Linked DNA regions of Homo sapiens. The protein of the gene in region 1 interacts with the protein of each later gene in a biochemical or structural test. Each region holds a gene or a part of one and is shown in the gene's direction. Other genes may lie near its edges.

Region 1 (3,500 bases):
AACAGGAGTGAAGGAACAACTGCATGAACCAGAACCTCAAGTTCTGAAACCATAACTTAGTACTACCAAAGTAGACTCAGCATCACCAGGACATATACAAGTTGTGTGTGTGTGTGTGTGTGTGTGTGTGTGTGTGTGTGTGTCTGTGAGTGAGTCTGTCTCACGAGTGCATTTTTAAACTTTGCAGACAGATTCTTACCCTGTGCTGAAAAGCTGATTGCTTACAGCCCTGAACTTAACAGTCTCTCACTTTAATAACCTCATTGTAAAGAGAGCCTCTTTGCCCCATCTCTAAATATAAATATGAGGGAAAGAGTCTTACTGATTTGGCTTTGGTCCTATGACTATCCCTAAACCAGATAAAATGGGGGAGGAATTTTCTAGGGGAAAGAGGTACTTTTATCAGAACAAAGGGAGTAGAATGTTGTAGGGTGAACAAAAAAGTAATAGCTGTCATAGTTTCTTATTGATGGACTCTTTACATATTCACTGTTATAAATACTATTGCATTGATATTTATAGAATAAATTCCTAGAAGTGGAATTGCTGGATCAATGCATTTTTAATGGCAGATATTGTAGGCTTGACCATCAAAAAGGTTGTATCAATGTACATTCCCACCAATTATTAATCTTTTTATGTTTTTCTAGTCTAATAGATGAGAAGTATCTAATTTTTAAATTTGTACTTTATTTTTTTTTAAAGTAACATATTTAAAAATATTTATTGTATTTTTCTGTGAACTGCTTTCATTATCCTTTTTCAAATTTTCTTTTGGGTTATTGTCCTTTTTCTCATTTTTCATTTTCCTTTTTTCCTCATTGATTTTTTTTTTTTTTTGAGATAGAGTTTCACTCTTGTCACCCAGGCTGGAGTGCAGTGGCGCTTTCTCGGCTCACTGCAACCTCTATCTCCCAGGTTCAAGCAATTCTCCTGCCTTAGCCTCCTGAGTAGCTGGGATTACAGGCACCCGCCACTATGCCCATCTAATTTTTGTATTTTTAGTAGAGACGGGGTTTCACCATGTTGGTGAGGCTGGTCTTGACCTCAGGCGATCCATCCCCCTTCAGCCTCCCAAAGTGCTGGGATTACCATGCCTGGCCATCCTCATTGATTTTTAAAAGCCGTTTGCTCATTAAATAAATTAACTATTTGCTTTAATGAAAAATTATTTAATAAGAAATTGTGGGAAAATATACATAACAGAAAAGTGTACCATTTTAAGCATTTTAAGAGTATCACTCAGTGGCATTAAGTACATTCACAATATTATGGAACCATCAACACTGTTCATTTTGGAACTTTTTTATCATTCCATACTGAAATTGGTATCTGTTAAACACTAACTTCATTCTCCCTCCTTCCCAGCCTCTGGCAACCACCATTCTACTTTTCTGTCTCTATGAATTTGACTACTTTAGGTATCTCACATGATGCAGTAAGTGTCCTTTTATATATGGCTTATTTCACTTAGTATAATGTCTTCAAGGTTTAGCCCTTTGTTTTTATACGTAGTTTGGCAGCTTGTAGAACCTCTCTTTCAGTAGTTGATGGTGACATTTTAAGCTCCTTGCCTACTTGCCTTCTTTCTTTTTCTTTTCTTTTTTAAAAACTTATTTATTCATCATTTTATCTACCTCTAGTATCTCGGAAAAGGAAAGCCAAGAACTGGGAAGATGAAGACTTTTATGATAGTGATGATGACACATTTCTTGATAGGACTGGCCTGATTGAGAAGAAGCGTCTGAACAGAATGAAGAAGGCTGGCAAGATTGATGAGAAGCCAGAGACCTTTGAATCATTGGCAAGTTTTATTTATGGAAGTAGCTGTGGTATTTAATAGTTTAATTTTTAATAACATAATGTATTATTTAAATATGTTTTATGATAATTTTTAAAGTAGTAGCATTGAAATCTGATACTGAAGTATAACTTTTGTGGTCTGTTAATTTAATGGTAACAGACAACTAGTCTTATCCAAGTTGTTTGAAAAAAATATGGCTTGCTGCTAGATCCTTTCCTTCAGGATATTGATCCATTAATTAACATTCTTTGGATATGATATTACCTCTCTCAAAAGGAAAGGAAAAAGTTCCAAGTTAGGGCGTTCTGAGGTGAAATTGACTTTAGCCTTCTGGCAGTCAAGAGAAGTCAAAGGAATTTTGAAGAATGTAGTATGGTAATATGTAGTCTGAAACAGTATGTTCTTCAGGAAATTATCACAAGGTGACGTGTTAATGGGTAGGTAACAGACAATAATAGGCAGGTAATAGGCTACCTATTAGACTAGAAAAAAACATAAGATTAATAATGCAGAGCTTGACCAGAATATGGAGAAGTAGACTCTCAATTGGTGGGAATGTACAATACAACCTTTTAAGTGATCAATCCTACGACATCTGTCAGTATTAAAAATGCATTGATTCAGCAATTGCACTTCAAGGAATTTGTTACAGGTATTAATTTATAGTAGGATTCAGAGCTTAAAACATTACCCAACATCTATCCTTTTGATTTATGTGAAAACAAATGCCTTGAGCTCTTTCTTCTGAGTAAAATGAAGTCCGAGTTATTCATTCTGTTTAATTCTGTGTTTTTTAATTCAGAAATAAATTAAATTTGGATTTAACACATAAAAAGTGTTAACTCCTGGCTGGGCATGGTGGCTCATGCCTGTAATCCCAGCACATTGGGAGGCTGAGGCCGGTGGATCACCTGAGGTCAGGAGTTCGAGACCCACCTGACCAATGTGGTGAAACCCCACCTCTACTAAAAAAAAAAAAATACAAAAATTAGACAGGCGTGGTGGTGTGTGCCTGTAGTCCTAGCTACTCTGGAGGCTGAGACAGGAGAATTGCTTGAATGCAGGAAGCAGAGGTTGCAGTGAGTCGAGATCACGCCATTGCACTGCAGCCTGGGTGACAGTGCGAGACTCCATCTCAAAAAAAAAAAAAAAAAACTATTAACTCTGGCCAGGTGTGGTGGCTCACACCTGTAATCCTAGCACTTTGAGAGGCTGAGGCAGGCTGATCATGAGGTCAGGAGATTGAGACCATCCTGGCCAACATGGTGAAACCCTGTCTCTACTAAAAATACAAAAAGTAGCTGGGTGTGGTGGTGCACACCTGTAGTCCCAGCTACTTGGGAGGCTGAGGCAGGAGAATCGCTTGAACCCGGGAGTCGGAGGTGGCAGAGAGCCGAGATTGCACCACTGCACTCTACCCTGGCAACAGAATGAGGCTCTATCTCAAAACAAAAAAAAAAGTGTTAACTCCATAAGTAGCAGTTTAACTGGACTTTTGAATTAATCTTCTTAAAACTTCTAGTAAGAATAATTAAAACAGGAGGATGAAAAACAGTTTGAAAGAAGAAAAACTTTGTAACCCTGTTGATTTGGGTGTTACAGGTTGCAAAATTAAATGATGCTGAAAGGGAACTTTCTGAAATTTCTGAGAGATTGAAAGCCTCAAGCCAAGGTAAGTTTTTCATCAAATATTTAT
Region 2 (3,500 bases), on another chromosome or scaffold:
TGGTTTGGGTTTTATGTATGTGTGTTTTTCGTTTTGTTTTGTTTGTATTAAGAACCAAAGAGGCCGCTTTTAAGCTGAGATGAAATGCCTGTTACTTCAAATCCTGAAAAGCAGCAGCCACAGATCTTCTTGGGTCAGATCTCATGATCTGGGTGATGTCAGCACCATGATTTCTCCAGCATAGTATTCATATCCATGCAGCAAACTCGACTCTTTCTTCCTAGCTGGCCACATGGAATTTTTTAATGAAAAAATTATGTATGAATCTAAGCCTGTTTTTAGGGAGCTTGGAAAGTGCGCCTTTGGGAATTGTGACCTGTCATCTCCTCTTGGGAAACTTGCTGTCCGGCTGCATTCCAGGCAGTGTGACAGGCATCCATCTCACCCCTCACATGGCAGCTTCCCTGCCTTTGGTGTGCTCCCTGCAAAGCGAGGGTTCCCAGTGGCATTCTTACTCATTAGCTGCTGCAGTAGAAGTAGAGGGCACTCGGCTCAGTGCCCCGTTTCTCCAAACTGGGAAACTCATTACATAGAACATCCCTAATCTATCCTTGCTGGAAAATATCACCGAACACCCAAGGGAAACTGTTATCTAATGCTCTTGTATTCAGAGTACTATTTAACTATCATGTGCATAGTTTAATTTATCACTGACCCTAAGACATTGTGAATCTTGAAGTGCTTCTTAAATATTAAAATAGGATTACAGAATAACTGTTAAAAGTAATTGCACAATTACTTTTGCACCAACCGAATATTAACCTGAATATCCCCTGTCCTGAACATATCAAACAACGGAAATTTTATTGTTTCTCTTTTAATTTCTTTGAAATTGTACATATTGGTCCCTTTCTTTCAGATACACCTGGGTGAGGATGGATAAGGGGATATTATATGTTTTCTTTTTCTTCTGTCTCTTTTTTTTAATACCCCGCAAGTTCTTAAAGCTCAAGGGGATATTACAGAACCAGCAAGGTATGAAACAGAGGAAACAAAAATTCAATATACTTTGCATTGGCGTAAACTTTCCAGAGCCAAGAGAGACATGAACCTATTGTTTTGCCATAGCCAAGTGCCGTCGAATAGGTGCGATAGAGGTAGGAGTTAAAATATCCATTTGCGCTAGAAACCTTCCTGGCACCAAGCCAGCTTTATCAGTGTTTTCCCATGGGCTTCTTGTACTGCCGCAGAAAGACCACGTTTATACCAACCTGAAAAAAATGTTATCAGCCTCTCTCTCGACAGCGTATTGAACCTGAACGAACAAGCAGCCTAAAGTCATGGGTAAGCGGCGGTACATGGCGCCAGACATCCAAATGCCGAGGAAGCCTCTTTAGGCATTGAACCACTTTTGACCTAGCTATCAGAATCATTTTATTTTGAAAGAGGTTAAAAAAAAAGTCTCATGAAATGGATGACAGCTTTGCAATATAATTCTCAACTCTAAATGAAGGAATGTTCTCTAAGTAGGGAAGTTTCATATTCCTGGCAAGACGTTTCTTGGAAAATTACCATATTTTAGTGCAGCTGCAAGGGGTAAATGATCTCTTGTGTGACTTTATAGAAAAGCACACGTAGATGTGAAGCCTGTGCTCGAGCTGCCCAGTGTTCCCCCACCTTCACCGCCTTAAGCACCCACAGTTTACATCCATGAACACATGGACAAAAACAAACTCATGTGGAGGCCGGGCCAGGCTCCGGGGAAGGTCCCATTCATGGGTGGTTGACAGTGGATTGGAAGCGGGAGATTTGGGGGGATCGGTTAGGATAGCTGGCAAAGAATCTGTGCTTAAGTCAACACAGCTTGGGCCTGAGCCTGAGACTTGGGGTCTCAGCAGGCACTAGACATTGGAAGTCCGGGGCTATTGCACTGGCTTTCAACTCCAGCCGAGGTAACTTAAGCAGGTCACCATAGAGGTCAGGCTTTTTTTTTTCTTTTTTGACAAAGGGTCTCACTCTGTCACCCAGGCTGGAGTGCAGTGGTGCGATCTCAGCTCATTGCAAACTCCACCTCCAGGGTTCAAGTGATTCTTCTGCCTCAGCCTCCTAAGTAGCTAGGACTACAGGCGCACACAACCACACCTAGCTAATTTTTTGTATTTTTTGGTAGAGACGGGGTTTCATCATGTTGGCTGGGCTGGTCTCGAACTCCTGACCTCAAGTGATCCATCTGCCTCAGCCTCCGAAAATGCTGGGATTACAGGCATGAGCCACCGTGCCCAGCCAAGGTCAGGCTTTCTTAATCAGACCTGTTAAGTTAGAATTTCTCAGGGAAGGGACCAGGCATGAGTCACTAAAAAACAGAAGAAGCCACCCAGATGAGTCTAACGTGTGTACACGACTTTCTGATGGTTCAGTTCCAGTCCATGCCTCTAAGGGTGGGTTCCCTGGCCAGTGGGGCCTTAGGACTGCTCTGTGGTCAATACCTGCTCTGCAGCACAAAGGCAAAACTGTCCATGCTGTCTGCTCTCAGCCTCAGCACAGTCCCTCCCACTCTCAGGTAAGGTGAACATATCACTCACTGTTCAAATCAGGAGAGGATTGAGAGTGATGGGACGGCTGTCAGTCATGTTGGGATGATGGGTGCCCTAGAGAAAGCTCCCAGGTAGACCAGAATAATTACCCTAGGTGATTGCTGGCTTTTGTGGGGCTTAGGTGGCTGATCTGGATCTCATGATGGTTTTTAAAAAGACATTCCAAGCTCTTCTTTGGCTGGTTTAGCCCTCTCCTTTATTGGTCAAATCAGAGACTTGTCATTTAACTGCCTGTCTTTGACTAATGGTGCTGCAATGCTTTCTTTATAAAGAAGAAACTGTAGATGACTGTTACCTGATTGGCCTTTTTTAAATGAATTCCAAGCTTTTCTATTTCTTATTTTAAACAATTTGTAGACATTTTATTCCCCCATGGGGAGAGACAGAGAATAAGAAGTAGGTAGTGATATTTTTTTTTTTGTTTTAACAACATGATTTACTCTTATAACTTGTCTCAGTGGATTGGTGGTTGAGGTCTCCACCAGCGTTTCATTGGGAAGAGGTTTCAGGAACAGGATGAAATGCCTCCCCTTCTGCACCTCACCCTCCAGGGAGAAACAGGAGCTGAGTGGCTTCTTCTCCCCCTTGCTGATTATCAGATAGAAATGTGAGTCATTTCCATGCTTTGAATATCTTGAGATGATTTTCAAGGATATCTGCATTTAAGATGAGGTGAACATTCACCTAGTAGCAAATTTGCCTGGGTCGCTCTGAAAAATTCTGGCCTCCTCAAGGATACAGATTGTGACAGATACATTTTTAAAAGCTTTATTGATGTATAATTTCCATACCAGAAAATTCACCTGTGCAATGATTACTAACGTATTTGCAGAGTTGTATTTATACAACCATCACCACAATCTAATTTTAGAACGTTCCTTCACCCCAAAAAGAAATCTCCTGCCTATTTGCAGTTAACTTGTGTCTTATCCAACACCTAGTTCATGCAGTCAGTAAGTTTTTTTT

The links.
Region 2: the proteins of SLC4A1AP (region 1) and MFHAS1 form a complex in vitro, tested with the Homo sapiens proteins (one large-scale study listed by BioGRID and IntAct).

Annotation. Positions count from the first base shown.
Region 1 is NC_000002.12:27,673,889-27,677,388, forward strand, and holds part of SLC4A1AP (kanadaptin), read left to right. Parts: intron 1-1,643; coding exon 1,644-1,804; intron 1,805-3,406; coding exon 3,407-3,476; intron 3,477-3,500.
Region 2 is NC_000008.11:8,792,631-8,796,130, reverse strand, and holds part of MFHAS1 (malignant fibrous histiocytoma-amplified sequence 1), read left to right. Parts: intron 1-3,500. UniProt on the Homo sapiens protein: Probable GTP-binding protein. Functions in innate immunity and more specifically the inflammatory response as a regulator of the Toll-like receptor TLR2 and TLR4 signaling pathways.